Linked DNA regions of Homo sapiens. The protein of the gene in region 2 purifies or fractionates together with the protein of the main gene of each other region. This does not show direct contact. Each region holds a gene or a part of one and is shown on either strand. Other genes may lie near its edges. The genes, in order: RBM28, PDGFB, CEBPZ, RPF2, NSA2, MRPS31 and BRIX1.

What was found.
Region 1: the proteins of PDGFB (region 2) and RBM28 purify together in Homo sapiens (affinity purification with mass spectrometry; 2 studies listed by BioGRID and IntAct, with this or other methods). This does not show direct contact.
Region 3: the proteins of PDGFB (region 2) and CEBPZ purify together in Homo sapiens (affinity purification with mass spectrometry; 2 studies listed by BioGRID and IntAct, with this or other methods). This does not show direct contact.
Region 4: the proteins of PDGFB (region 2) and RPF2 purify together in Homo sapiens (affinity purification with mass spectrometry; 2 studies listed by BioGRID and IntAct, with this or other methods). This does not show direct contact.
Region 5: the proteins of PDGFB (region 2) and NSA2 purify together in Homo sapiens (affinity purification with mass spectrometry; 2 studies listed by BioGRID and IntAct, with this or other methods). This does not show direct contact.
Region 6: the proteins of PDGFB (region 2) and MRPS31 purify together in Homo sapiens (affinity purification with mass spectrometry; 2 studies listed by BioGRID and IntAct, with this or other methods). This does not show direct contact.
Region 7: the proteins of PDGFB (region 2) and BRIX1 purify together in Homo sapiens (affinity purification with mass spectrometry; 2 studies listed by BioGRID and IntAct, with this or other methods). This does not show direct contact.

Annotation. Positions count from the first base shown.
Region 1 is NC_000007.14:128,302,020-128,306,295, reverse strand, and holds part of RBM28 (RNA-binding protein 28), read left to right. Parts: 3' UTR 1-4,276. UniProt on the Homo sapiens protein: Nucleolar component of the spliceosomal ribonucleoprotein complexes.
Region 2 is NC_000022.11:39,227,358-39,231,633, reverse strand, and holds part of PDGFB (platelet-derived growth factor subunit B isoform 1 preproprotein), read left to right. Parts: coding exon 1-12; intron 13-1,405; coding exon 1,406-1,550; intron 1,551-4,276. UniProt on the Homo sapiens protein: Growth factor that plays an essential role in the regulation of embryonic development, cell proliferation, cell migration, survival and chemotaxis. Potent mitogen for cells of mesenchymal origin.
Region 3 is NC_000002.12:37,214,568-37,218,843, forward strand, and holds part of CEBPZ (CCAAT/enhancer-binding protein zeta), read right to left. Parts: intron 2,471-4,276; coding exon 2,417-2,470; intron 1,852-2,416; coding exon 1,749-1,851; intron 1,642-1,748; coding exon 1,573-1,641; exon of another isoform or gene 754-1,572; intron 386-753; coding exon 319-385; intron 1-318. UniProt on the Homo sapiens protein: Stimulates transcription from the HSP70 promoter.
Region 4 is NC_000006.12:110,984,447-110,988,722, reverse strand, and holds part of RPF2 (ribosome production factor 2 homolog), read right to left. Parts: intron 3,718-4,276; coding exon 3,585-3,717; intron 1-3,584. UniProt on the Homo sapiens protein: Involved in ribosomal large subunit assembly. May regulate the localization of the 5S RNP/5S ribonucleoprotein particle to the nucleolus.
Region 5 is NC_000005.10:74,769,752-74,774,027, reverse strand, and holds part of NSA2 (ribosome biogenesis protein NSA2 homolog), read right to left. Parts: intron 3,398-4,276; coding exon 3,218-3,397; intron 1,716-3,217; coding exon of another isoform or gene 1,656-1,715; exon of another isoform or gene 1,535-1,655; intron 161-1,534; coding exon 1-160. UniProt on the Homo sapiens protein: Involved in the biogenesis of the 60S ribosomal subunit. May play a part in the quality control of pre-60S particles.
Region 6 is NC_000013.11:40,764,089-40,768,364, forward strand, and holds part of MRPS31 (small ribosomal subunit protein mS31), read right to left. Parts: intron 2,946-4,276; coding exon 2,658-2,945; intron 1-2,657.
Region 7 is NC_000005.10:34,921,839-34,926,114, reverse strand, and holds the end of BRIX1 (ribosome biogenesis protein BRX1 homolog), read right to left. Parts: intron 3,899-4,276; coding exon 3,828-3,898; intron 3,577-3,827; coding exon 3,527-3,576; intron 3,421-3,526; coding exon 3,347-3,420; intron 3,115-3,346; coding exon 3,064-3,114; intron 2,983-3,063; coding exon 2,881-2,982; intron 1,269-2,880; coding exon 1,140-1,268; intron 890-1,139; coding exon 620-889; 3' UTR 119-619; downstream 1-118. UniProt on the Homo sapiens protein: Required for biogenesis of the 60S ribosomal subunit.

The DNA.
Region 1 (4,276 bases), on a different chromosome or scaffold from region 2:
GTCCATTCCAATCTGGACAGTCTCTGTGCCCCTCCTTTCCACTCAAGTGTTATCCAGCACTCAAGTTCTGGCTCAAGGCCCAACATCTCCGTGGGGACCTCAGCCATCCCAGGGCATTGTGACCCCTTCCTCTAAGTCCCCGGCACACTCGCTGATTGGTACCCTCTCATTCGACAAAGCATATGCCATTGTGGCTTACTTGTCATTTCTTTAGGTCTTGCCTTCCCAAGTAGATCATGAGCCACTATAAGAACTAGCTCCCATAGTCCCAGCCCCTGGGCCTGGTACATGGCAATGCTTAGTGATTGGTGATTGAGGATAATGGTGGTAAAGGATGTACCAGACAGTCATCTCCTGAAGAGATGCCGAACAACCTGTCCTTGTTTTATGTATTTTCTCTTTCTTTCCTGTCCAGTTTTATTCCTCTCATAGTAACTGCTAAAAAAATATCAGTTCCTGTCACTCTTCCACCCCTTTTCTCCCTCTCCCCTGCATTGTGGTCTGGGCCTTGGTCCACTAGCAACTCCCCTTAGGTGTTGCTTAATCTGCCTCATGGCCAAAGCCAATCCCATTCCTGTCCCCCGCTACCCAAGGGACTCCCAGTCTGTATGCACAAGGCGGGATGTGAAGTCTGGATGTGCAAGAAACCCAGCTGTAAGAAACAGCTTCCCTCGGCTTGGCATGGTGGCTCATGCCTATATTCCCAGCACTTTGAGAGGTCAAAGTGGGAGAATCACTTGAGCCCAGGAGTTCAGGACTAGCCTGGGCAACATAGCAAGATCCCACCTCTACAAAAAAAGAAAAAATTCAGAGTCTCAAATGTCCCTTCATCTCCTTACTCTCGACCTGTCTCCCTAGTTCTCTGCCGCCTTTTCCTCTCCCCTGGATCTGACACTCAATTGTCTGCATGCACTTTTCAACTGAAAGAGACTCCAATGCCATCCTTCTGATGAAATTTTTGCTTTGGATACTACTGCAGAAAAAATGCTATCTTGTATTCTGGTCCATGGTGGGGAAGACCCTGTCGTAGAACCTGGCAACTCAAGTGGAGGGAGGGGCCAGAACATTGTTCTTATGCTATTTACAGTGAGACAACAGGATTGATGCAGAACTTTCTTTTTTTTTTTTTTTTTTTGAGACAGAGTTTCATTCTTGTTGCCCAGGGCTGGAGTGCAGTGGCATGATCTCAGCTCACTGCAACCTCCACCCCCCAGGTTCAAGCAGTTCTTCCTCAGCCTCCGGAGTAGCTGGGATTACAGGCGTGCGCCACCACGCCCCACTAATTTTTGTATTTTTGGTAGAGACGGGGTTTCACCAGTGTTGGCCAGGCTGGTCTCGAACTCCTGACCTCAGGTGATCCACCCACCTCGGCCTCCCAAAGTGCTGGGATTACAGGCATGAACCACCGTGCCCGGCCGTGATGCGCAACTTTCTAATAACATACTTTTGAAAGTGCCCAGACATACATCCCTCCTCTGGTACCACAGTGGCCATCAGTTGCCAGAGAACATGAAATTATCCAGCCCTCAGCTCTGCAGCAGGATTCTGAGGAGTAAAGCAGGCCTGTAAAGTACTCTAAAGTACTTCAGAGAGGTAATGCCACAAAGCGAAGAACACCTCTTGGAGGCAGAGCCCCTCAGCCCTATCCAGGCCAGCAGTGTCCACTTGAAATCTGAAAGCAGCCTCCCTCACCAAACCAGCAAGATGGAAAACCTCCCTGGGTTGGCAAGTGGCCCTGGGAAGTACATGCCCCATCTCTGTCAGGATAGCAGTGGAGAGGTTTCGTGCCAGTGCCAGCTCCACCCACCCAGATGGTACTCAAGACTCCAAGCCTGTCAATGGGGTGGAAACTTTCTGGCATTTTCTGTCAGAAGGGTGAGTTAGCACTGAACCATCTCATGTGTCTTTTCACTGAGTAACAGCCCATATCCATTCCATGAAATGAGTGACTGCTTTGTTGAATCAGATAGTAACAAACATTTATTTGTAGTCTGGTTGTGTCATATCATGGTTGAATTGCAAACAGGTTGGATAGAAGAGTCAGCAAAAATCAACAAAAGCATTCTGTAAAAAACTTTTCTAGAATTACAATAAATGGCATTGTATATTTTATTTATAAATTATGTGCTGCACATCATTTTTATCAATGAAATTTATAATAAATTTCTGTACATATATACATTTTTATCCCAGAGAGCCAGTTGTTAAGCATTTACCAGCAATAAATGCTTTTTGTTTCCTGCTTACACAGGTTCTGGGAGTGGCCAGCCCACTCTTTGAGATGTCCCCACTTGCTTTTTTAGTTGTCCAAGTAGTGTTCTGCCCAGCCTTCCCGACTCTCTTTCTTATCCTTCCCTCGAAACTATTCTGTTCCTTATGCTTAAATACTTTCCAGTCATGGGAGCTTTGCTGTAGGCCCTTGGCCTTTCATGGGTAGCTTCTGATACGTGCATGGGTGTTAATAGAGGAAGTTGACCCCGCCTGGGAAGAATAATGACCTATGGAGACCTGGCCCTTTCTCTTATGGCTTCTTAAAGTGACAGCTGTTATGGGAAGTTCAGGCATCTTGACGTGGAAAATACATTGTTCATTTTCTTTTAATTTTTTTTCCCCTAACCACTATACCAACAGGGATGGAAAGATACTTTTAGTTGGAAGGAATTTGGAGCCCTTAAACGACACCTGGAGCAGCTGCCTGTGGGTGGGGCTTTGCACAGTCTCATCCTGGCAAGGGAGGACGAGCCAAGGACCAGTTTTGCAGAATTGTCATCATGAGGCCCTGGTTGTGTGCTGGGCTGGGGCATTGCCCCTTTCCAGGAGGCCAGGCCAAGCAGGGCTGCCTGGCTTAGGCTTTTGCATCTTCAGCATCCTTTCACGTCTCTTATCTCAGGTGACCTTCACAGCAAGCCTGGTGAAGGTTATTGAGAAGCAGATGTCACCACCTAGTCTTAGAGCTGATGAAAGCAGGATGTGGGGAAGTCCAGACCCTCTCCTGAAACCCCTTGGCCACCTGAGCTAGTACCAGAGCAAGGTCCCACTTGGCCGTGAGTGCTGTCTCTAGGGCCTATTTCAGGAACTGTCTCATATATAAGAACAGAACACTTTTTGCCAGCTATACCAAATGTTTTTGGGATTAAAAAAATAGTTTCTCTTTTCCAAATTAGGTGGTAAGAAAAGGAAGGGCATTTTCATTCTCACATTCTTTGAATGTTGAAACGTTTTAAAAACTTCCAGCTGGGCTTGGTGGCTCATACCTGTAACCCCAGCACTATGGGAGGCTGAGATGGGAGGATCCCTTGAGGCCAGGAGTTCAGGACCAGCCTGGGCAACATAGTAAAACTGCCCAAAATTTGAAAATTAGCCTTGTGTGGTGGTGTGCACTGTAGTCCCAGCTGCTCGGGAGGCTGGGGCAGGAGGATTGCTTGAGCCCAGGAGTTTGAGGCTGCAGTGAGCTATGGTTGTACCACTGTACTCCAACCTGGGCAACAGCGTGATACCCTGTCTAAAAAAATAATAAAAATAAAAAAGGATTAAACCCTTTACTTGACCAGCTTCTTTTCCTGCTACCCCTGGACTAACTAATCATTACATATTTTTGTAGTTGTTTTTTCTTTCTTTCTCTCTCCTGATCTACCACAAGCCAAATGTACTCATATACATACTAATAGGTGAAAAAAGAGAGTCTGAGGAGTGAATACATTTATTTTGTGATTTCCTAGGCAGTAGCTAGGACTCCCTTAGAGGTTGCTAATAGGGAAAGGGTGCGCTGGCTCTACTCAGTTTTATAACTGCTTTTCCCCGAATTCTGCAGACATCTTCATTCCCCTGGAGGTCAGATAATGGCTATTTATTTTCCATAGCCATGAAAATCTCTGGGGAGAGCTGTGGCAATTTGACGAGAGCTATTAAAGGGACATTAGGATTGAAGTAGCTGCTCAGGCAGTCACATACCCTCGATCCTCATCTGCAGGGACAGCTGCCAGAACGAATGAGCCCAGCTCTCCTGCCCGCAGCCAGCCGCGTGTGGGTGCAACTGGCGACCAGCCACTGGAGTGAGTCCCAGGGAAGGGGACAGGTTCTTAGAATCACCATTTGTCTCTGCTCTCTCCCTCTCTGCAATAGGACGGGCACTCTAAACTCACATAATGGTTAATAACAACAGCTAACAATTACTGAGCACCTACTATGTGTCAGGCATGTGCTGAGGATGATCGCATCAAGTAAAATGCCTGTCTCTGGCCCAGAGGCCCAGAAGAAGAGAAAGAAGGGAAATCTG
Region 2 (4,276 bases):
CGACCTGTCCAGGTGCGTAGGCTCCGCGGCCCCCCGAGGCTGGTCCCGGTGGTGGGTGGAGACCACCCTTCTGGGGCTCATACCTGACCAGGCTTCCTTGACTGGGCAGAGTGGTGTGTCGAAGGACATTCCTGATTTGTTCCTGGGCTCTGTCCAGAGAGGCCCACTCTTGGGAAGCTCTTCCTAGGCAGGTGGACTGAGGCCGACCATGAGTCCTCTGAGGTGGCTCAGGCCACTGTAGCCAAAAGCCACAGACAGACCCCCCGGGCTGGGCGAGGTGTGGAGCCAACGTGAAGTAGGGATGTCACCTCCTTTACAAGGACAAAATCGCAAAACGTCCCTTGAAGAGCCGTATCCGCAAACATTTATCTGACACTCAGAATGTTTTGGGGAGCTACTCAGGTTCCCCCAAAGCTCTCCCTATTCAGGGCTGTCTTGAGAAAGGCTCAGATGGGTGGCCCTGCATCTTTGACACCTGCTTGTCTCTCTTTGACAAGCTGTGTCTTTAATAAAGAGAGTGCAGAGAGGCCCACCAGGTGATAGACACTGCGGAGCTGGGGCAGGTCCCCTGACAACAGTGGAATGCTGATCCTGCTTTTCTTCGGAGGGACGGGGGATACATACACTGGACTCAGGGAAAATTCTAGAGTAGAGGCTGTCTCAGGGAGCACCCTGGTCTCACCCTAGTCGGGGCAGAGTCAGAGAAGCTGCTGCTTCTGCTTCTTGTGGAAAGATTCCTGCACGCCCCAGGCCAGCCTCGCCCACAGGCTGGGCAGTGCGCATTTCTCTAGCTCAGCACCGGCCCTTGCCCGATGCTCTGCCTGCTTAGCCGCACTTCCTTCTCCTGCCACCAGCCCGTGGCCTCTCCTCCTGCCCACCTTCCCTCCCTGGCTTGGGCCCCACGCCTGAGACTACGAATGTCACTCCACCCCACTGCCCACTCTCGTGGTATCTCCTGTCCTCGATGCTTCCAGCTCTATGGATGGACACCTGACATCTGACCTCCCCGTTCCCACCTCCCTCCTAGATGAAGCCTCCCCCCACTTCCTTCCAGACAACCATCTCCCGCCTCTGCCGCAGCCCTGACCTTGGCTGGCGCTCCGGGAATGAGGATACCGCAGGCCCCAGCTCAACCCGGAAATGCCTTTCTGGCTGTCCCTCTCTGGGGGCACTGAGGGGGGCCCCAGGTCGGGAGGGCTTGTTTTGATGGAAAAGCTACGAGAAGGGCAGAGGTCAAGGTCCTGCTATTGTTTGGGCCAAAGCTTTTGCCCCACAGCCTGCTCTCCGGGCTTTCGAGGAAAGATTGCTGCAGGGGACACCGGGGTGGGAAGCGCAAGCCATTCGGGCTTCCCGGGCTCCTGGCTGTGTGGTCTCTACAGAGGCATTTTGTGGCTCTGTCCTCCAGGTGAGAAAGATCGAGATTGTGCGGAAGAAGCCAATCTTTAAGAAGGCCACGGTGACGCTGGAAGACCACCTGGCATGCAAGTGTGAGACAGTGGCAGCTGCACGGCCTGTGACCCGAAGCCCGGGGGGTTCCCAGGAGCAGCGAGGTAACCACCTTTCCAGGCTCAGCCCTCAGCCCCCTTCCCCTGCAGCAGCTGGGGGCAGGGGCCGGTCTTAAAAATGGAAATGGGATCAGGCCCGCCCCCGGTTAAATTCACGGGAGGCTTTCTTTTCATCTTGCTGAGACACAAGCCAGGTTCCTCCCTGGCCTGAGAGCCCTACATGAGGATTAGCCCCTGGCTGGCTCTCTGGTCTCTGCCAACCAGTACCCTTCACCTGTGCCACCCCCGCCGGGCAGGCCTCTTTCAGTAACTAATGGAGTTTCTGCCTCAAGGCTTTAGCACACACTGCTGTGGCTGAAGAACACTTCTCCCAGCTCTCCACAAGCCTAGCTCCTTCTCTTCATTAGAGTCTCAGCTCAGAAGTCACCTCCTCCTAGAAGTCTGCCCTGACCACCCCATCCAGAGCAGCGCCATTTCCAGTCTTGCTACCATAGCCCCCTGCTTTGTTGGATGTGGGGATGGGATGGTGGAAGGAATCTGGGCCTGGATGAGAGAAAGCTCCGCGCACATCAACTTCCGATAGTGAGCAGCTTGTCCTGGGGATGAGAAATCAAACGAATTTCTCGTATCCTTGAGCGGGGGAACCAGGACCAGTGGGGAGAAGCCACTGGAGAGAGATTTCAGCTCCATATGCAGAACAGCTAGCTGGTGATCAGTCAGGGGTGCAAGGTGGAATTGGCAGCATTGTGAGGCATCTCTACAAAAAATACAAAAATTAGCCAGGCATAGCGGCACACGCCTGTAGTCTCAGCTACTTAGGAGGCTGAGGTGGGAGGATCGCTTGAGGCTGGGATGTCGAGGCTACAGTGAGCCGTGATGGCACCACTGCACTCCAGCCTGGGCAACAGAGCAAGACCCTGCCTCAAAAAAAAAATGATTAATACGATTAGATGAGCGTTTAAAAAAATCACGTAAGTGATAGTTCTTTTTCAGTAACTTTCTATTGTTAGGGACAGGACAATCTTTTCATTCTCATTTCTTATTAACAAGACCCTGAAGACGGAGCCATTTCTTGGCATCTGTGTCTTATTCCCAGAGCTGAGCTGAGTCGCTGGATGCCATGGAAAGGCTGATCATATGACAGCTTCAAACTGACATGTTGTAAATTATTGAGTTAATATGGAGGGTGATTTCTCTATTAAGGGAAAATTATATATATCTATATATATATATATTTTTTTTGAGGCAGTCTCACCCTGTCACGCAGTCTGGAGTACAGTGGCACAATCTTGGCTCACTGCAACCTCTACCTCCTGGGTTCAAGCAATTCTCCCGCCTTAGCCTCCCGAGTAGCTGGAATTACAGACACATGCCACTACACCCGGCTAATTTTTGTATTTTTAGTAGAAACGGGGTTTCACCATGTTGGCCAGGCTGGTCTTGAACTCCTGACCTCAAGTGATCCACCTGCCTCGGCCTCCCAAAGTGCTGGGATTACAGGCGTGAGCCACCACGCCCAGCCTCTTTCTTTTTTAAGAGACAGGGTCTCTCTCCATCACCCAGGCTGGAGTGCAATGGCATGATCATAGCTCACTGCAGCCTTGAACTCCTTCCTGGGCTCAAGCGAGCCTCCCTCCTCAGCCTCCTGAGTAGCTGGGATTACAGGCATGTGCCACCACGTCCAGCTAATATTTTAAGTTTTTGTAGAGATGAGGTCTTGATTCGTTGCTCAGGCTGGTCTCTAACTCCTGGGTTCAAGTGATCCTCCCACCTCAGCCTCCCAAGGTGCTGGGATTACAGGCATTGAGCCACCACGCCTGGCCTTCTTTATGTTTAGAGTGAGTTACTTCATGTATTTGTTTGACGTAATTTTCTAAACCAGTTTCTTGGGAGGCGCATTATACCAGTGAAACGTAGATGATGTAAAGTCCCATCATTTTAGTTCCGGTATTTTGGTTGAGTATGACGGTGTTTCTGTCACCTGTCCATGGGCCTGGCTAAGGCTTGGTAGTGTGGCTCTCTGTGATAATGTGGTCAGTGTCAGACCTCCTGGGCTCAGATCTGCGTGTTGTCACTTGAGCTGTGTGGTGACCTTGTGCTTGCCTGGGCTTGGTATAGCCCAGTGTCCTGCTGATGGCCCAGGCTCTGGGGAAGAAACTCCCTGGGCCCTTCAGTGGCCCTCCTGGTGTCTTCTGTCTGAGGGGATCTGAAGCCCATTCAAGTCCCTGAACTGCTAGAAAATCTGCGCAATTGCAGAGATGGGAGAGCTGCCTCGTGGGAGCTGGTGTCTGTAAGGTGGGAGGTCAGGTGTCAGATCCCGGTAGGCTGGGAGAGCTCAAAAGGCTCCCAGGAAATGGCTGGCCTTGAGCTCAGCAGACACAGCTGTCCCTGCCAGGGTGGCCACCTGGGAATCCAGGACGGAGAGAAGTGTATAAGAGCTCCCCTTGACTGAGGCTCACAGGCACTGTCGTTTGTGCTGAGTGGTTGGAGGTGTGCACTCTAGAGGCAGATCCCTGAGTTCAAATCCCAGTCTCTCTGCTTCAGTTTCCTCATCTGTAAAGTGTGGGTAACAGCATCTGCCGGTAACAGCACCTGCCGTGAAGGGAAATGAGCATAGAACAGCACCAGGTACATGGTAAACACTAGCTGGGGGGTTTCTGGCCATTTCCATGTATTGTCTCCTAACGCTAGGAGGCCAGGGCTGCTGTCTTCTCTGCTTTAAAGATGTGGAAATCGGCTGGGCGTGGTGGCTCACGCCTGTAATCCCAGCA
Region 3 (4,276 bases), on a different chromosome or scaffold from region 2:
ATTTATATGCTAAATTAACAAAACTCCCAAATTTACTTTAGTTTTACTAAGATATATTAAGATTAGCAAAATGACGGATTTGTAAATTTTCTTAACAAACACAGACATATCCTTTGATCTTTTCAAAATATGCTGATTAGATTTCATAAAATGAAGCATTTAAAACTAAGGCCACTTCTCCCACTAATGTTCCATGGTCTATTTACACACAGTAGTAGATTATTGAAGTAGATTATTTCATAAAATGAAGCATTTTATGAAATCTAAAAATTTAAATTTTAGCAGTTTCCCCAAATGAAACTATATTATGTATAGTACCTGTGGAAAAACACTTCATCCACTGGTATTTGGCTTTCTTCTTTTGCAAGGAACTCCTTACTGTTCACTACAAAAATAAATTTAAACATTTTAACTTCATATAGCAATCCCCTTTATGTTACTCAAGCTCTTAAGACAAAATACAGCATAATCTGTAATTCTAAAAATCTCAGAATTGTGTGGGAAGGTAGACAGAAGGGACTCTGGAGTGCAAGGGACAATCTCTGAAAAAGTCTGTGTGAAGACCCCCCCAACATTTGAAACTTCACTGGCTACAGCATAAAGTAGGCAGTACATAGCTGTCAGTGCCGTTACAGTGAAACAACAGGGTTCTCTTACTGTTCTTCATTTGCATCCAGGACCCAACTTTCAAGAGAAATAAAAAATTCAAAGAGTTATTTTAATAAATAATCACTTTAAACTTGTCATTTTCAGCTCAAAAAATGACAAGCTTGCCATTAATGCGTGCCATTCTGGGAATAAACAGGAAGTTAACAGAGTTTTCCTTTATACTGAGGAAAACTAAGAAATAAGGAACTACAAGAAATCAGTTTTACCTCTTCAGAATAAAAATTGCTGACTCATCCTGAGTAAAAGGAGATTTGGCTTTTAATTCTAACTTACTAACTGTGGGTAAGTCCTTTTACATCTCTGGACCTCTGTGAAGTAAGTCACTGGAAATTAAATGATCTATAAGGTCTAATTTAATCCTGGTCTCTGAACAAAAGGGAGATGAGATCTGGTATGCAAAGAAATGTCTGCTTTGAATACAACAACAGACTCAGATCCAGAAGATGGCTAGCAAATATAGAAGTAGGTTATTAAGTTTAAAATGATGCTCTGTGACAAAACCAGCTGTGGGTTTTTGTGCTGCTAAGCTGATATTAGAGAGCTTTAAGATGGTCTGAATTGTAAGCAATAATAATTATATACATAGGGGTTGTGGATGAAGCTACGGATGATAAAATGGTGACAACTGTCAAAGCTGGGTGATGGTAATGGGGAGGGGGTTCATCATACTATTTTGTTTATTTTGGATATGTTTCAAATTTGCTGTAATAAAGTTAAAAAAAAAAAAAAAAAGGCCCAGTCAGATACAGTAGATTTAAGAATACCTATTCTTGGGAAAAAAGATGGATAATGTCTTTGATGCTCAGGTTTTATTCTGATAAATTAGAACAAAGAATAATACAATTTATGCATCTTTGTCTTATATTGTCTTTTCAGTTTCAACTGTCTAAGGTTTATACTTACCAGGAAGATGACGAATATCCTTAATAAAATGTTTTCTTTTCGGCTGCATCACAACACTATCTGTGTTTTCTGAAATGTAAAATTATGACAGTATAATGCAAAACCTAGTTATAAGCTCATATTGTTTATTATGTATTAAAAATGAAAGCCAAATAATTCACTAAATAGAAGCATACCTTTGCCTTTATGGGGCTTTGGATTTCGGTATACAAATCGATCCAAAAATCTCATTAGAGTGAAATCCTGCAGTGGGTCCCCTGAATACTGAATATAGTTTCCCTGAAAAGTGGAGCGGGGATTTAAAAACTTAATTCAAATTATGTCTATGAATCCAAGTAAGAAAAAGGAAGAAAAAGATAATTTCTATTACACTGTATTGAAGATACAAATATGCAATAAATGACTCTTCAAATATCTCTCTCATGCACATTATACTTAAAAAATTAAACACACAGATACATATACATACATATTCTAGGATGTAATGTTGATTTGATGGATAGACTAATATTAATAATGCAGGCCATCTAACCATTAATCAGGAACCAAACCCTGAAGTGGCAAACACAGCAAATGGGAAAGTGAGGCAGTATTTCTCCAGGAGAGGAGCTAGAAGGTAATAAATAAATAACTGCGTGGCTTTCAATGTCTTATTGCTTCCACTCATCTCAGAGTGGGAAAAGTTATCTGCTACTCTGTATGAAACAAGTCACTGCTTCTTTATACGAGCAGTAAAATGTACAAGATTCTCTCTGTTAGAGAAAACACTGTATGACCAATTATTGATTATCTAAAATGATACTTTTTTTCTTATTTCTCATCTTTGGATTTATTTTAGACTCACCTGAAGGATGGTCTTTGCAAAAAGGGCCACGGAGGGATGAAAATGCACAGATAACTAAAAAGAAAAATGTGAATAATATCAATATTTCTAAGGTCGACTCTTAGTACATTTATAGCTTATTTAAGAAAATCGGGCTGGGTGTGGTGGCTCACACCTGTAATTCCAGCACTTTGGGAGGCTCAGGCAGGCAGATTGCTTGAGCCCAGAAGTTGAGACTGGCCTGGGCAATATGGCGAAACCCCATGTCTACAAAAAGTACAAAAATAGTCAGGGTGTGATGGTGCGCGCGTGCCTGTACTCCCAGCTACTCAGGAGGCTAAAGTGGGAGGACTGCCTGGGCCCAGGAGGTCGAGGCTGCAGTGAGCTGACATGGCACCACTGCACTCCAGCCTGGGTGACAGAGTGAGACCCTATTTCAACAACAACAAAAATGAAAATGCAAAAATTTGAAATTTAAGCCAATACATTAAAAAAGTGATTCTCAAAACATATTGGTCTCAGGACCATTTCCTACACTTAAAAACCAAAAATTCCATCAGTTTCTATTCAACAGGTTTATATCTACAGACACCTATGTTATAAAAATAAACAGAAAAATTGTAAATACTTATAGGTCCATTAAAAATAACAATAAAGCGGCCAGGCGCGGTGGCTCATGCCTGTAATCCCAGCACCTTGGGAGGCTGAGGTGGGCGGATCACGAGGTCAGGAGATCGAGACCATCCTGGCTAACATGGTGAAACCCCATCTCTACTAAAAATACAAAAAATTAGCCGGGCGTGGTGGCGGGTGCCTGTAGTCCCAGCTACTCGGGAGGCTGAGGCAGGAGAATGGTGTGAACCTGGGAGGCGGAACTTGGAGTGAGCCGAGATCGCGCCACTGCACTCTGGCCTAGGCAACAGAGCAAGACTCTGTCTCAAAAAAAAAAAACAAAAAACAAAAACAAAAACCATAAAGCTACTACATACTAGTAAGTAGCATATTTATGAAAAATAATTATGCAGCCAGGCGAGGTGGCTCATGCCTGTAATCCCAGCATTTTGGGAGGCCGAGGCGGGCGGATCACGAGGTCAGGAGATCGAGACCATCCTGGCTAACACGGTGAAACCCCGTCTCTACTAAAAATACAAAAAATTAGCCAGGCGTGGCGGTGTGCGCCTGTAGTCTCAGCTACTCGGGAGGCTGAGGCAGGAGGATGGTGTGAACCCGGGAGGCGGAGCTTGCAGTGAGCTGAGATCGCACCACCGCACTCCAGCCTGGGCGACAGAGCAAGACTCTGCCTCAAAAAAAAAAAGAAAAAAGAAAAAAAGAAAAATAATTATGCTTCAGGACGAAATATATAGCGAGTAGTATTACTTTACAGTTTTGCAAATCTCTTTAATGTCTGGCTTAACAGAAGAGAGTGGATTATTTCATCTGCTTCTGTATTCCACGTTGAAACATACAATCTGGCCTCATGTGTAGAAAATAGTCTTTCACATAGCTGTGAATTTTCTTCTTTAGTACTATACCAAAACCAAAGATTAGTTGTAATATGGAATCTGAAACCCATATTCAATTGGCTTTTGGTACTTGCTACTTAAAATTATTTGGTCTACTTTGAATCAATCATTTATTCACTCAAGAATTTGTAACATTCAGGTGGCACAGTGGCTCATGCCTGTAATCCCAGCACTTTGGGAGGCTGAGGTAGGTGGATCACCTGAAGTCAGGAGTTCGAGACCAGCCTGGACAACATGGCAAAACACTGTCTGTGCTAAAAATAAAAAAATTAGCTGGGCATGGTGGCATGCTCCTGTAATCCCAGCTACTCAGGAGGTAGAGGTTGCAGTGAGCCGAGATCGCGCCACTGCATTCCAG
Region 4 (4,276 bases), on a different chromosome or scaffold from region 2:
AGTGGCTCACGCCTGTAATCCCAACACTTTGGGAGGACAAGGCAGATCACTCAAGCCCAGGAGTTCGAGACCAGCCTGGGCAACATGGCAAAACCCTGTCTCTACAAAAAACTGCAAAAATTAGCCAGGCATAGTGGTGCATGCCTGCAGTCCCAGCTACTTGGGAGGCTAAGGCGGGAGGATCACCCGAGCTCAGGAATTCGAGGCTGTGGTGAACCGTGATTGCACCACTGCACTCCAGCTCTGGTGATAGAGTGAGACCCTGTCTCAGAAAAAAAAAAAAAAAAAGTAGTAGACAAAAACAGAAAAAATAAATTCTATCACGAAAGGCTGACAGATTGAAATAATGTTGCGTGGAGATCAGAAAACTTAGAAACAGTAATAATGATGACAATTAGAATACTAGCCAGAGGTTAAACACAGCTCTTTAAAAAATGCCTATTATTCAATGTTCTTCATTTTTTTCCTAGTTCTACCTATCCACAAATAATCATTCATTTTATTTTATTTATTTATTTTTGAGACAGGGTCTCACTCTGTTGCCCAGGCTGGAGTGCAATGGCGTGATTAAAGCTTACTGCAGCCTGAAACTCCAGGGCTCAGGTGATCCTCCCATCTCAGCCTCCCAAGTACAGACACATGCACCACGCCCAGCTAATTTTTGTATTTTGAGTGGAGATGGGGTTTCACCATGTTGTCCAGGCTGTATTTTATTATTTTTTTAAATTTAATTTATAGAGATGGGGTCTCACTTTGTTGTCCAGGCTGTCATCCTAGGCTTAAGTGATCCTCCCACCTCAGCCTCCCAAAGTGCTGGGATTACAGGTGTGAGCCACCACACCTGGCCTATAATCATTTATTACTTGTATGGCCAGTACTGCTCTACCATAGAGAATAACAAAGATGTCATCAGGTACTACCTTGCATTAGAGAAATGGGTAAATGAGGGAAACAATGAAAAATAAGGTATAATAATCATTCATCAACTATCAGAGTTGGTGAACAAAGAAAATGCAACAGTAAAATCTACCTTTTTAAGTACTAAAACTTTTGATGATTCTTGGCCAACTATTTCCCTGTTTCCGTGTAATAAACATTGCCACCTCTTCTTGATGACTCAGAGTCATCATGATGAATTTTAATTATTGTAGTAATCTGTAATATTGTGCTGCTTTTAAAGCTTACTTAAATATGCAGGGTCATTGTGCTGATGGATACTAGAAGGAGAGGGGCAGTTTCCCGTTAGCACAATGAAATTCAGACAAACATTTCAAAAAAGGGATGGGCCTATATAAGGCATTCAGACATCTGAATTGACTATGCTTATCAGGCATAGAGTTTGGTCAAGTTTAAAATATATTCAAAGCCAGGCATGGTGGCTCACTCCTGTAATCTCAGCACTTTGGGAGGCCGAGGCGGACAGATCATGTCAGGTCAGGAGTTTGTGACCAGCCTGGCCAACATGGTGAAACCCTGTCTCTACTAAAAGAACACAGAAATTAGCTGGGTGTGGTGGCTCCCAGCTACTTGGGAGGCTAGAGGCAGGAGAATCGCCTGAACCCGGGAGTCAGAGGTTGCAGTAAGCCAAGATGGCACCACTGCACTTCAGCCTGGGCAACAGCGTGAGACTCCACCTCAATAACAACAACAAAAATGTATTCGATTACTTAATTGATTTAATTCAAAGATCTATTGGCTGTACTCAAGGCCTAATTAGTCAAATAACCTACTAGATATCTCCACATACTATGTCTTTTTTTTTTTTTTAGTTGGAGTCTTGCTCTGTTACCCAGGCTGGAGTAAGTGCAATGGCGTGGTCTCAGCTCACTCCAACCTCCATCTCCCAGGTCCAAGCAGATTTTCCGGCCTCAGCCTCCCTAGTAGCTGGGATTACAGGCGCCCACCACCATGGCTGGCTAATTTTTGCATTTTTAGTAGAGACAGGATTTCACCGTGTTAGCCAGGCTGGTCTCGAACTCCTGACCCCGTGATCCGCCCACCTCGGCCTCCCAAAGTGCTGGGATTACAGGTGTGAGCCACTGTGCCTGGCCCATACTATGCCTTTCTTTCATAGATTACATATATATTGAGTACCTACTATGTCCAGACACTGGGCTGTACACTAGGCTACAGAGGTAGAAAAAACAAAGCTTTTATTTTCATTACTTAAATTACATGTCCCAAACCGAACCTTTCACCTTTCCCTCCAAACCTGCTCCGCTTGATACATTTTCTAATTGGCATTATTGCCCATCAGGCACTCAAGCCAAACACCTGGGAAGTCATACTTTTCACTAGTTCCCAACTCTTCTTTCCTCAACATCTATTCTTTCTGGTCATTTCTCATTTTCATTGCCACCACTGGACTCCAGATGCTCTTCACCTAGCTGGCAGCAATGGCTTAGTTTCCTACATTTGCTCTCAACCCTCTCTAATCAAGCCAATTAAAAGGACTGATGGTATCTCTTGCTTAATATCTTTCAATGATTACACGGAGCTTTCAGATTAGAATTCAAATTTCATGTTACTATGTGACCCATGCCTCCTCTTCTAGCCTCATCTAGCCCACTCTCCTTTGGCCATGCCCAATTATTTACAGTTCTCCAAATGCATCAATGCTCCTTCATACTCCCTTTTGCACAAACTTCTTTCTCAGCCTCAGAGGATCTTCTCTTTCTCTCCCACTTCTTGCACCAACTTCTCCTTCAAAATGAAGCTGCAGTGTTATCTCTGGGGGAACCTACCCTGTGTGGGGGTCCCCCTATGTGATTTTTTTTTTTTTTTTTTGAAATGGAGTCTCTCTCTGTCACTCAGGCTGGAGCAGTGGCACAATCTCGACTGACTGTGACCTCCACCTCCCAGGTTCAGGCGATTCTCCTGCCTCAGCCTCCCGAGCAACTGGGACTACAGGCGCCCGCCACCACACCCGGCTAATTTTTGTACTTTTAGTAGAGACGGGGTTTCACCATGTTGGCCAGGCTGGTCTCGAACTTCTGACTTCGTGATCCTCCTGCCTCGGCCTCCCAAAGTGCTGGGATTACAGGCGTGAACCACCGTGCCTGGCCTCCCCTATGTGATTTTAACTGTTTCCCACCCTACCCTGTCCATGCCTCCAGCACAGCACAGTGTAAGAACTTTTTACATGTCTATCTCTCTAAGCTCACTGAAAGAACTGTGTCTCACCTATTAATTCCCAGCAGAGGCACAGTAACCGGTGTTGTTGAATGACTAAATATACAGCAATATGCAGTTACTTCTCTTTACAAATTAGATTTTTTCCTAAAATGTAAGTAAGCCAAATTCTAGTAATTGAAAACAGTTTAAATTTACTAAGGGAGACCTTCACTCTACCAGACCCACCTGTGCTCCTAAAAAACAATAATAAAATTTACTAAGAGAACTAGTTGCTTTAAGAAAAGGTGCCACGCAAGGTAAATAAACCCCCAACTTTAGCTCTTCTCTAAGACTAGTAGTTCTTATGGTAAGGCAAGCTTATCTACGTATTTCTCCGACAGCCCATCCTAGCATGCTGAAAATTCTAAAATGACTTCAATACCTTTTAAAGATTAAGTATATATACTTACCACATCTTTAAGTACTTTTGTCACTGTTGCATTTGCATTTCCCCCTTTAATCAGCATGGCATTTTTAATATTTTCATTGAGTTTCGGTTCTCTCTTCTCAAGGAATCTCTTGGCTCTTTTCGTTTTGGGCTTTCTGTTCAGAAAAGCACAATTCATAACTATTTAAACATTTTCCTCACATTGCAAAGCCATGACTTAACTAATATGAAAATTCTTAAAAACATATTTGTCACTTAGGGTTCCACCCTTAAAAAAAATCTCACTTTCTTTTTTTTGTTTGTTTTTTTTTGTTTGTTTTTGAGATGGAGTCTCACTCTGTCACCCAGGCTGGAGAGTGATGGCACAATCTTGGCTCACTGCAACATCCACCTCCTGAGTTCAAGCAATTCTCCTGCCTCAGCCTCCCGAGTAGCTAGAATTACAGGCACACACCACCACGCCTGGGTAATTTTTGTATTTTTAGCAGAGACAGGGTTTCGCCATGTTGGTCAGGCTATTCTCGAACTACTGACCTCAGGTGATCCGCTCACCTCGGCTCCCAAAGTGCTGGGATTACAGGTGCGAGCCACAAGGGCCGGCCAAAATCTCACTTTTTTGGTAGATATTAGTAAAAGATATTTCCTTATTATTGTTAAATAAGTGTTTTGATAGCTTTTAAAAAAAAGCTTTCATTTTTGTATTCCCACCATTCT
Region 5 (4,276 bases), on a different chromosome or scaffold from region 2:
CCAATTCGCTCACATTTACTTCAATGACAGTACCTTTGGTAATAACACCCAAAGTTGTATACAGTGGGGATGAGGGATTCTTCTTTACACCAAGTATTGGTAGGCAAAAGGTGGCTTTCAGTTCAGGATGTGTTACATGGGCTTTCTTGAAACGCAAGCCCTAGTAAGTCAAACACAACATAAGAATGTTTACGTCCAAAATGTTAACAGTGATGAGTAGTGGTCGTTTTCGCTTATCTTTTTCAACCATCTCCAAAAAACTATGGTTGAATAATGTCATCTTAAAGAAGCTAACAAAATATGTTTTACAGAGTAAAAAGCTGATGGTTACAGTATAAATATGTGGGGAAAACACCCACACAAATACTTAAGAATTTCTTTTTCTTTTGAGACAGGGTCTTGCCCAGTTGCCCACGCCAGAGTGCAGTGGCGTGATCTTGGCTCACTGCAGCTTGGACTTCTTGGGCTCAAGACATCCTCCCACCTCAGGCTCCTGAGTAGCTGGGACTACAGGCACGCACCACCATGCCTAGCTTATTTTTTTTTTTTTTTTTTTTGGTAGAGATGGGGTTTCGCCATGTTGCCTGCTGGTCTTGGACTCCTGGGCTCTCAACGTATCCACCCACCTCAGCCTCCCAAAGTGCTGGGATTACAGGCCACCACAGCTAGCCTCTGAAAAGTTTTTTTTTTTTTCACCCTGTAATAGCTACCTAGCAACATACCCAGATTTTTACTGTCTAGTCATCTACACTTAGACTTACTAAGGACTTTATATATACCAGGCCACTATGCTAGCTCACAACTGGCTCACTTAAACACAATAACCTCACAACAAACACATCCCCTCTCCTCTGTTTTCAAATGATGTAACAAGGATCAGCAGGTTAAATGACTTGTTTCCAGATTAAATGGTGAGTGGTAAACAGACTCAAACCTTAATATCCTGATTCCAAGTCTTTATATAACTCGGCTACCTTCCATGATGAAAAAAGGAGTGGACTGTCAGCTTTCTTTAGGTTGATGGCAATATGAGACTGGAGGAGACCCAGAGGAGTCTTTGTTACAGAAACTGGTTATGGAGTCACCCAGTCACCTAATAAGGTCTTTTAGGGTGTAGTACTTTAAACGTCACAACATTTTGCAGTCTTCATTTTTGTGTGCATGGGGATGGGGGGAAAAAATCACTAAATCAGTTTCTTAGTAACAGACTCATTAATCAAGCTTGTAAGAAACTGACACCATTCAGGATGCCATCTGATTATAATGACAAATCTGTGAAACTACAGAAAACCTAGAATAGCCTGACTTGTATATTCTCTCCCTGTAGAACTGTTAAGGCTACCAAAATATATTCAGACTATGAATATGAAACCAAAACAAGTCGAGTCCATGATATAATCCGGGGTGGGCAAACATTTTGTGTAAAGAACCCAATAGGTAAACACTTTAGGCTTTGTCAGGCCATATGGCCTCTGTTGCAACTGCTCAATTCTAGGGGTAGGGGTTATGCAATATGTAAATGAACAGGCATGACTGTGTTCCATTAAAATTTTATTTACAGAAACAGGCTATTTGCCAATATTTTAATCTATTAAAAATTACTCACGTTGGCCGGGCACGGTGGCTCATGCCTGTAATTCCAACACTTTGGGAGGCTAAGGCGGGCGGATCACGGAGATCGAGACCATCCTGGCTAACACGGTGAAACCCCGTCTCTACAAAAAAATACAAAAAAATTAGCCGGGCGTGGTAGCGGGCACCTATAGTCCCAGCTACTCGGGAGGCTGAGGCAGGAGAATGGCGAGAACCCGGGAGGCGGAGCTTGCAGTGAGCCGAGATCGTGCCACTGCACTCCCGCCTGGGATACAGAGGGAGACTCCGTCCCAAAAAAAAAAAAAAAAAATTACTCAGGTTGAACACTAGGATTATGGCATGTTGCAACTTTCCTCTCTCTGATACTTTGTTTTTTTGAGGCTGTGTATCTAACTGGGAGAATAGTTCAGTCTCTTTGAAGGGATTTTGCAAAAATATATCTTCAACTATGTTTCTCCCCAGGGGTGGGGAAGTTTGGGGTCACATTACTATTGCTGCCTTCAACAGAAATTAAGCTATATTAAATTATCTTCCTTTTTTCAAAGATTTTCTTTTTCTTTTTTTCTTTTTTTTTTTTTTTTGAGACAGAATCTTGCTCTGTCCCCCAGGCTGGAGTGCAGTGGCATGATCTCCACTCACTGCAAGCTCTGCCTCCCAGATTCACGCCATTCTCCTGCCTCAGCCTCCCAGGCAGCTGGGACTACAGGCGCCCGCCACCATGCCCGGCTAATTTCTTGTATTTTTTTTTTTTAGTAGAGATGGGGTTTCACAGTGTTAGCCAGGATGGTCTTGATCACCTGACCTCGTGATCTGCCTGCATCGGCCTCCCAAAGTGCTGGGATTACAGGCGTGAGCCACCGCGCCCGGCTTTTCAATGATTTTCAAAAGCATTTAGATACTTTCCTTATCAAACTGGAATTGACTCTTATAAAACAGTCCTACTCAAGTTTTCGAACTGCTGTCAAAGACAAGAAGTGTTTTGAGACCTAGACAATATCAGGCATATTGTAGATCACTAGTTTAATGAGGAAAATATGACTGTGGAAAATGAAGATTCTAATATGTCATGTTTAAAAGTCAGAATTCACTGACAATGTCTTATGATACTACTTTTTCAAATCTCTCACGAAGCTGAAAAGATTTTTTTTTTTTTTGAGACGGATTTTTGCTCTTCTTGCCCAGGCTGGAGTGCAATGGCGTGATCTCAGCTCACTGCAACCTCCGCCTCCCAGGTTCAAGCGATTCTCCTGCCTCAGCCTCCCTAGTAGCTGGGATTACAGGCGCCCGCCACCACGCCCAGCTTATTTTTTGTATTTTTTAGTACAGATAGGGTTTCACTACATTGGCCAGGCTGGTCTTGAACTCCTAACTTCAGGTGATCCACCCACCTCAACCTCCCAAAGTGCTGGGATTACAGGTGTGAGCCACCGCACTGGGCTAAAGATTTTTGACTAGTGGAAAAAGTACTAAATAACTTCTGTCAATAAAATAACAAAAATTGCATAAAAATATCTTTCAACCTGTTCCACATCAATTTAAAGAATTTCAGGAAATGATAATGTTCTTTATCCGATTTAATAAAGTCAACTAACATTTCGGTCATTACACTCTTCCAAGGACTTACCATTGGCCTGATGAATCTTTCATATTTAGGTGGTTTTCTTGTAAAGCCATCTCCAACAAAGCACACTTTAGTAACCATTCTCTTCCATGCCTTCTTCTTTCTCTTTCCTGTTCGAATAACTTTTAATACTTCTGTTTCTCCCTGGGCACGTACTTTAGGCAGAGGGACTTCCCATTTTCCCTAAAAATATGCCACAGTTAAAAGTTTATATTGTTATTAAAGGACAATGAGAATAAGTCAAATATGTTTTAGTTGTACAAAGTAATAGATCTATTTTTTTTGCTTGACCATCAACACATTTTTGGCTCAACCGTCTTCTAGAGGTCTGTATTGTCTCATAAGCTGCAAATTAAACAGAACAAGTTTATATATCATGGGTATGTTAAATAAATGGTTGGCTTAAGCTAAAAATCTTAATGCTGTGTTATGGGTGAGAAAATACCACCTGTAATGTGGTGGTTTTTTTTTTTTTTTTTTTTAGATGGAGTCTCGCTCTGTTGCTCAGGCTGGAGTGCAGTGGTACAATCTTGGCTCACTGTGCAGCCTCCGCCTCCTGGGTACAAGCAATTCTCCTGTCTTAGCCTCCCGAGTAGCTGGGACTACAGACACACACCACCACACCCAGCTAATTTTTGTATTTTTAGTAGAGGTGGGGTTTCACCACATTGGTCAGGCTGGTCTTGAACTCCTGACCTCAGGTGATCCACCTGCCTTGGCTTCCCAAAGTGCTGGGATTACAGGCGTGAGTCACGGTGCCCAGCCGATAGTGACTTCTATAAGCAGTATATGTGTTTACTAATGTTTAATAGCATAATACTGGAAGAGTGTTTCCACCTCTTAATATGTCTCTGTATTTCTTCCCGAGATGGATCTGTAGATCACTAGCAAGACAAAATCCTCACCAGATGTTTTATGCCTCCCTTGAGTGCAAATTCTATGAAAAAACTGAAATAGTGTAAGGCAGTAAAAATAATTCTTTAAATATAAATACTGCATATTCTTTTATCTGGATTTCTGCTAATCTATTTACAGGTGTTTTAAAAAGCCACATTTTTTGTG
Region 6 (4,276 bases), on a different chromosome or scaffold from region 2:
GAAAATACAACCATGTCAATAATGATGTAAATTAGGCAGTTCACAGTAACATTACAGCAGTCCCTTCATATCTGCAGGGGTTGGGGGGAGGTGGGGCCGTGGGATACAGGCATTGTTTCCAGGAACAGCTCTGGCCCCCACCAGGATGGATGCACAAGCCCCTTACATAAAATGGCAGAGTACCTGCATATAAGTAATGCACATCCTCCGAATACTTTTAAATTATCTCTAGATTACTTATAATACCTAATTATGTAAGTAGTTATATTGTATTTTTTTTTAATATTTTCAATCAGAAATTGGTTGAATCTGTGGATACAGAACCTGCACATACAGAGGACCAACTGTATATTGCTCCATTCCTATCAATGACATTATATCTTTGTCAAGATTGTTTCTCAGGAGTGGTTGTGATAAAAACAAATATCCCAGGAAAATCAATGTGGAACAAGGGTAAACACGGTAATGTCCAATCTTATTACAAGGCTAGGTCATTAAAAAGAAAATACAACTTTCTCTTGGCTCACTTTCTCTTGAGACACCCGCCCTGGAACCCAGCCACCATGCAGGGATAAAGCCCAGCCCACAAAGAAAGCCACATGTAGGTGTTTCTGCTAATAAGGTCTCAGCTGACAGCCAGCAGCAACTGCCAGACCTATGAGTGAGCAAACTTCAGACAATTCCAGCCTCAGACTTCTAAGTCTTCCAACTGAGGCCCCAGACATCACAGAGCACAGATTGGCCTTCCCCCACTGTGTTCTAGTCAAATCGCTAACCCACAGAATCTGTGAGCATAATGAATGAATGTTTTATGCCACTAAGTTTGGGAGGTAGTGTAGCCATGGTAACCATATCAATGAAGGTTCAATATTTAATACAAACAAAGAAAAGCAGTCTATGTATGAAGCAATGATGACAGTGTCTCATGAAGCAAAGATCATGACTAACCTAATCCCGTGCACCTTGGAGTCCTTGAAAAAGAGGGAGGGGAGGAAAAAATCATTAAAAGACACCTTTTTAAAACTCAAAACAAATGTACCTCATTCACCAGTCTTTTGATGTGGGACCAAAGCCTCTTCTTTGAACATAGGACCACTAATAGAGGTTCTAAGACACATCTTTTATATACATCACACCCATCCTCCAGTATTTTCAATTTCAGTTTAAGTGGAAAAGTGGAGCAAGAATGTAAGAAAGCTTACAAAGCAATCTAAGTGTATGATCTTCCCACACATGTATGTTTGCCTCACTCATACCTAATTGGAAAGAAAAATTTTAAATGACCTTTACTGACTCTTTCCAAAGCATTCAACTCACTTTACCATTTCTGTAATCGTTAATTCAATTATAATTATAATAAAGAGCATGATGGATCATAAACAGGTCTAGGAGCTTTAAAAATGCCATTCTTGAAAAGTATTTATATATGTTTGTATTATTTATTTCCATATACTTATATATAACCATTTTGTTTCTAAAAGCAGGAGGAGGAGGAGGAAGTACCTATTATGGGTACTGATAGTCTGAATTAGCTTACTCTACTACCCAATCATACTTTCTAGAGGTATTTTTGATATAACGTAGAAACCAAGAAGTTCCATTAAAATGTTAAATCAGTTTGGGAAACAGAAGACTATTAAAATCTGTTTGTTCTGGTAACAGAAGTCAGTGATGAGTATCCTAAAGCCACATAGCTTACTACTTGAATTAATGACATCATTGAAATACATCATTACATAGCACTAAAAAAAATACTGCCATTTAACCTACCACACAATGCCAAGTATCACTGATTGCATTTAGAATTAAATATAATACTCTTTTGACAAACACAAATAATTTTAATACTCTGAGGAAACTACCAAGAAAGCTGAAAGCACTGATAGGTATTGATCAAGGGAAGTCATATAAAGCAATTGTAATCAACATGCTAAAACTTTATTCCAGAAATCTTTAAAATGGAAAATTTTAAATAAGCAAGTCCTTTACAGACATTAAGCTACCTTCAAATCAAGATGTAAATGATATTGTTAATTAACAGCTTAAAGAGGCAATTACATGGCAGTTAATAACACTGATAAATATGTAAGTGTGTGAAATTCTCAATGAGATCATTTCTCCTTTCCTTTCTCTGGATTGTGTACAGATATCCTCTTGTTATTTAAATATAATACAATAACAGCATTTCTCAAGTAATTATTATTTTGTTGTTGTTGTTGTTTGAGACAGAGTCTCGCTTGATCCCCCAGGCTGGAGTGCAGTGGCACAATTCTTGGCTCACTGCAACCTCTGCCTCCTGGGTTCAAACAGTCCTCCTGCCTCAGCCTCCCAAGTTGCTGGGATTACAAGCACGCACCACCATGCCCAGCTGACTTTTGTAGTTTTAGTAGAGACGGGGTTTCACCATGTTGGCCAGGCTGGTCTCCAAACTCCTGACCTCAAGTGATCCGCCCGCCTCGTCCTCCCAAAGTGCTGGGATTACAGGTGTGAGCCACCATGCCCAGCCTCGAGTAATTATTAGAGTCCCTGTGTTTACAAGCTGATATTTATTCTTCATTAATTCAACATTTCCCAAGTACTTGTATTAAAAATATTTTTTACCAAAACAAAAAGCTTACTGGAGTTTCAAACAACATCTGAATTACAATTAAATTTACCTCTTCTTTGGAGCATATTCTGTAGCTCTTCGAAGCCTGCCAAGTGTAGCTTCCAAACTTTTAAGTGGTCTTCTTTTGGGGGGCTTTGTTGTTCGTACATTTACTGTGCTTAATTCAACTTTCATGCCCTTAATAATGCCTAACAAGTCTTTTTTCGTATTTTCCTTTTCACTGTCTTGGCTCTCTGAAGTCTCCTTGGAAGTCTCCTCAGTTCGAACAGACTGCTTATCTTTCTTGCTACAGATCACACTGTTAGTGCCAAAATATCTTTGGATGTTATTTTTTGTCCTGGAAAGATGCATTAAAGAAAAAAATGAAAAATACAATGCAGTCTACAATAAAGTAAAAAACTTACTTACAATAAAGTAAAAAACTATGTATCTAAGATTTTTTTTCAATTCAAGCCCTTTCCGTTGCTTTTTTTTTTTTGAGACGGAGTTTCGCTCTTGTTGCCCAGGCTGGAGTGCAATGGCGCGATCTTGGCTCACCGCAAACCCCGCCTCCAGGGTTCAAGCAATTCTCCTGCCTCAACCTCCCGAGCAGCTAGGATTGTAGGCATGTGCCACCATGCCCAGCTAATTTTGTATTTTTAGCAAAGATGGGGTTTCCCCATGTTGGCCAGGCTGGTCTCTTTTTATAATTATTGTTAACAACCATAACAGCAGCAACTTACCATTTATTAGCATATACTACATGTCTCATCTTGTGAAATATACTTTATTTACATTTCTCATACCCACATTAACTCCCTAAGGTCTCTATTTTGCAGATAAGGAAACTGAAAATCAGAGAAGTCCCAAAGTCATGTAGCTCACAGCTCACTAAGAACTAAAACACACTGTGTGCCACAAATAAGTAGAGGTGTGCTGAGATATTGATCACTTGGTCCTTGGGGTGGCCAGGGGAGGTCTGGGGGTGCTGGTGCTCCCAAGTCTGTTCCCTCCCTCCATTTACCCCAGGGTTGGGTAGAAAAACACTGACATGGTTAATAAATGACAATTTATTATTCTCAAACCCAAATGTGACTGACTGCAAGTCCTTGCTCTTAACACAATACCTCTTTAAAAGTTATCATTAAACAATACAAAAATAAATTTCTATCAATAAAAAAGATTATTTCAAAAAAACTTTCTGAGTGGGTGTTATCTAATCTGATCAACATTGTCATCGAGCTACATGCTACTTAACCCATAACCATTTGTAAGGAAAGCTAGAATGGAACAGAAAAGAGAATAATCAATGGCTAGAAATGTCATTTGTGCTTTCTTCACTAGATACATTTATGAAAAAGAACAACACAAATGATTACATCTATATTAGACTCATGCAAAAAGATTTCCTAATTCTAAGTAATCCAAATATCCAATTTTATTCTGTGGGGTTAAAAATTTGTTTTGGTATTTGACTACTGAAGAATTTTCAAAACTCTGAATGTGTTAGTTTCAGTAAGAGGGTATATTAAAAAATTATTTGCTAAATATAGTGAATATCTACTCTGTGGTGGGCACTATACTAGGTACTGACAATATATTAGTAAATAAGAATTTCATGGTCCCTGCCTTTATGAAGCTGACGTGCTACAGCACTGCTTCTCAAACTTTAAGCTTAGCCCCCACCCC
Region 7 (4,276 bases), on a different chromosome or scaffold from region 2:
CGGTGAACCGAGATCGCGCCATTGCACTCCAGCCTGGGCAACAAGAGCGAAACTCCGTCTCACAAATAAAATATAATAAAATAAAAAATTTACAAAGTGCTTTCAACACAGCCATTAATGCATTTGATTCTCAAAACCTCAACATTTTAATATACTCTTTTTTGAAGTGACAGATCAGGGGTTGGTTCTTCCATGGCTTCATTAACTGATGACTGAGTAAACTTCAGTGAGATGCCTTCCTTTCTACCAGTCTACTCCTACTTTACCATCCACAACCGATGCTCTTGAAGTGTTGAATGCTTTTACAAATAATATGACCTAATAAATGTCTGAATTTCAGCTTTGCTAAACCAAAAATTCCAACCCAAGAGAACAGGCTACATTAAGTGTGCTACATTTTTAGCAACACAAACTTCAAAAAGAAATCAGAAATTAACTGATGAATTCTGGTGATATTTTATTTAGAAAAAGATAATCACTGATTTTAAGATCTTAATTTTTCTTTCTTGTAAATGCTACACTAATTAGACGTAAGATAGTATTAGATAATAAAAGTATTTACACATTGAATACAAAATAAATATAAAGTAACTGAAAAACAAATCAGGTTTCCATTGACTTATTTTGTTTTCCCACTGTCCATCCTCTGTTTCATTTTTCTTTGCCTTTTGTAAATCCGTTTCTTTCTTGCTTTCAAATCAACTTTTGGCTCTGGTTTTACCCACTGTATTTCTATTGGTTTCTCCTCAGCTGGTGTTACAAAAACATCTGCAGTGGGATCATGTGGAAGAAGAGTCTTCGGCTCTTTCTTTCTCAGTTTTTGCACATCTTTCACTTGCTGTTTCTCTCTGTATTTTGCAGCTGTGATGGATCTTATGACACGCCGATGCTAAAAAAAAAAAAAAAAGATTAGATGCTTTTGAAATAAAAATAAACATTTTATATAAGGCAAAGACTTTCAGTTATGAACCATATATCCTTTCAGCCAGTGTCATGAAAAAAGGGAGTAATTTCCAAGTTTCTATGCAGCAAAAACCAAATTCAGTTTCACAGGTAATAAAACAGCAATTACTTCACAGAATCATTTTGGCCAAAGGGTTCTGGTACATTGAAGACTACTGAATGACACAACCGCTTACCATGTTTGGTGACTGGTAGTGAGGATTTTCATATAAAGTTGGTCCTCCAAAACTTCCCTGGAAAATCTTTATGAGATTTAAGACAAAACGAGGTCCTATTTCTACAAGAGCAGCATCTTCTTCTATGATCTTTAATAAAAAGGAAACATTTCATTTTGGTTTGGTTACGTTATTCCCAAAAGGTATACTGGCTATAACCTCATTATAAATGTGCCTGAAATAATTGATAATCCATAAAATCAAGGTGGGGGTGAAACTTGGTAAATGGCAAATCATCAATATTTTCTGAAATCTATTAGTACTTATAGGAAGTTGTCATGGAAAAATGTTTTTTCAGTGAGTTCTTTTAAAATTGAGTAATTAGATTTTGGTTCACATCTTGCTTGTCACAATGCATATATCCTTGAAAAACTGGTTAAACAGGATTTTAAAACAGTAACCACTATTAACAAAATGTATTAAAGCACATTATGGGGGAACTCTTGAAACTTAAATCAATCCCTAAATTGTTTTTATAAATCTAATTCAAGTTAGATTAAAAGGATATGTAGTCAAATTTATTTAATAGCTACTGATTATGGAATTAAAAGGCAACTTCCGAACAACAAATATTTATGTTATCTATTAGTTCAGGCATGTCTACCCTCAGAGGTTAGGATGATGTGTTCAACTCACATGCCAGGTATCCAATATAAAATATGCAGAAAAGAGCTCAGTTTATGTCATATACTGTCTAAAATTTTGTTCTTGCTGTTCTCTTCCACCTCTTCATCTTTCTGCACTTATCGTGCCAAACTCCTGCTTCAAGATTTCTAGAGTCACCTCCTCTTTTCTCCTGAATGAGTCACTGTGTGACTCATCATCTAACCGCTGCCATTGAATGCCTTCTAGAGCAATTACATTTTGCTAGGTCTTAACCTTTGAGGTGCTTTGAGAGAGAAACTTCTAAGCTTTGAGAGAGAAACTTCTATTTTACTGTATCCTTTACAGCACTTTCTACAAATTAGGAACCCAAGTATCTCATGGATCTTCAAGTTATTCCCTTTCTATAAAGTTAAATATATAATGGCTTATTAGGAAATCCATACTCTGTATCAACTAACAGTCATGAATAGAAGTAGGTAGAGCTCACTTAAGATATAAGACAGTACATAGTTACTTGCAGCAATCTCTTTAGGGAAAAGGAAGCTATTTAAAACAAAAGAATTATTTGCATTTTTTGTGTATGCAAACCCTGTATATCCTTATCTAAAAGTTTAACTAAAAATTGACCAGGCACAGTGGCTCACAACTGCAATCCCACCTACTCAAGATGCTGAGGAGGAATGATTTGAGGCCAGGAGGTTCAAGGCCAACCTAGGCAACACTGCGACACTCTATCTCTAAAAAAAAAAATTAGGCCGGGTGTAGTGGCTCACGCCTGGAATCCCAGCACTTTGGGAGGCCAAGGCGGGCAGATGGCCTGAGGTCAGGAGTTTGAGACCAGCCTGGCCAACATGGCGAAACCCCGTCTCTACTAAAACTACAAAAATTAGCCAGGCGTGATGATGGGTGCTTGTAATCCCAGCTACTCAGGAGACTGAGGGAGCAGAAGCTTGAACCCGGGAGGTGGAGGTTGCAGTGAGCCAAGATTGTGCCACTGCAGTCCAGCCTGGGCAACAAGAGCGAGACTCTGTCTCAAAACATAAATAAATAAACTCAATTAAAAAAAAGGTATAATTAAAAATCAAGTAAAGCTTACCTGAAAGTTCCGAAACCATATCCTATTATCCAAAATGGTGAAAGTAAACACGTGGTCCACAAATGGTTGGCTTTTGGGATGATACCGTGGTGTACTAAAGATCTAGTTAAAAAAGTGTATGTTAGTTCCTTATTCCAAGATATATCATGTATATTTTGGATAGCTAATTTTAAAGATATTTACCTGAATTAAGAGTTCTTTTAACAAAGCATAATGTGGTAATTCATCAAAAGCCTATAAAAATAAGGTAAGCATATTATTTAACAGTAGACTGCCTTGTTTAAAACTGTTTGCTCATTTGTTTCTATAACTTGGCTATAACCTCATTATAAATGTACCTGAAAGAATTGATAATCCATAAAACCAAGGTGGGGGTGAAACTAAATTGAATAACACAACTATATCTACTAAAAACAACCATGCCAGATAAGAAAATTAGACCTCATACACTGAATGAGAAACTTACAGGGTCAAAAGACAAAAGGGGCCGAGAACCTTTCAAACAGTTTCCAGTCATCTTCAGTTCAGCGAGGGTATGAACTAGAAAAATTACAACAAAAACAAAAATAGTTGTAACTTTTGCACAACTATTTCAAAAGATTACTTTTAATTTCCTCATCTAAAAAAATTTATTGAGTCAACTTACTATTTTGAACAAGGAATTTAGCAGATGGTCCGTGAGGTGAATTTGAAAGCCTGAAAGATATGGAGTAAGCTTTTTCAACTAATTAGCAAATGTAGTCAATGCTTACCACCTATTCACCATAAATAATATGCTTATAATATTTATACATTTAATTTTCTTTAAAGGTATCAAGTTTCGTGAAATCAAAAGTTTGCTTCATTCTCAACCCTTAACATGAAACACTAGGAGTCTATAACATAAAAGGTACAAAGAACAAATCCACTTAAATGAGTTTAACCAAAATCTTAATACATTCTCTTACCACATATAGAGATCCTGTTTTTTCTTAGCTTCAAAATAGATGCATTTATTACAGTTCTTCATTTCACAAACCTAAAGGAAGCAAAGTATAGGAAAATGAAGTAGATAATATAAATGAGAACTAAAGTAATTATATGTGATTAATATCATCCAGATTATCTCAAAAATACCTAACCAGGCTAATAGGCTACAAAGGCCTAAACATGTATTTATTCACAGAAGGAACCTTTAAAGTTCCTCTTAGGTATTCTACCCAAGGTAAACTAGATGCTCTGCCCATATCTTGGGTGAAATTATCTATCATATTTTTGGGCCTAGCATCTAAAATGGTCTCACTTCTGATTACTGGAAACCTCCCTCCTTTTTTTTTTTTTTTTTTTTGCGATGCAGTTTCGCTCTTGTTGCCCAGGCTGGAGTGCAATGGCACGATCTCGGCTCGCCGCAACCTCC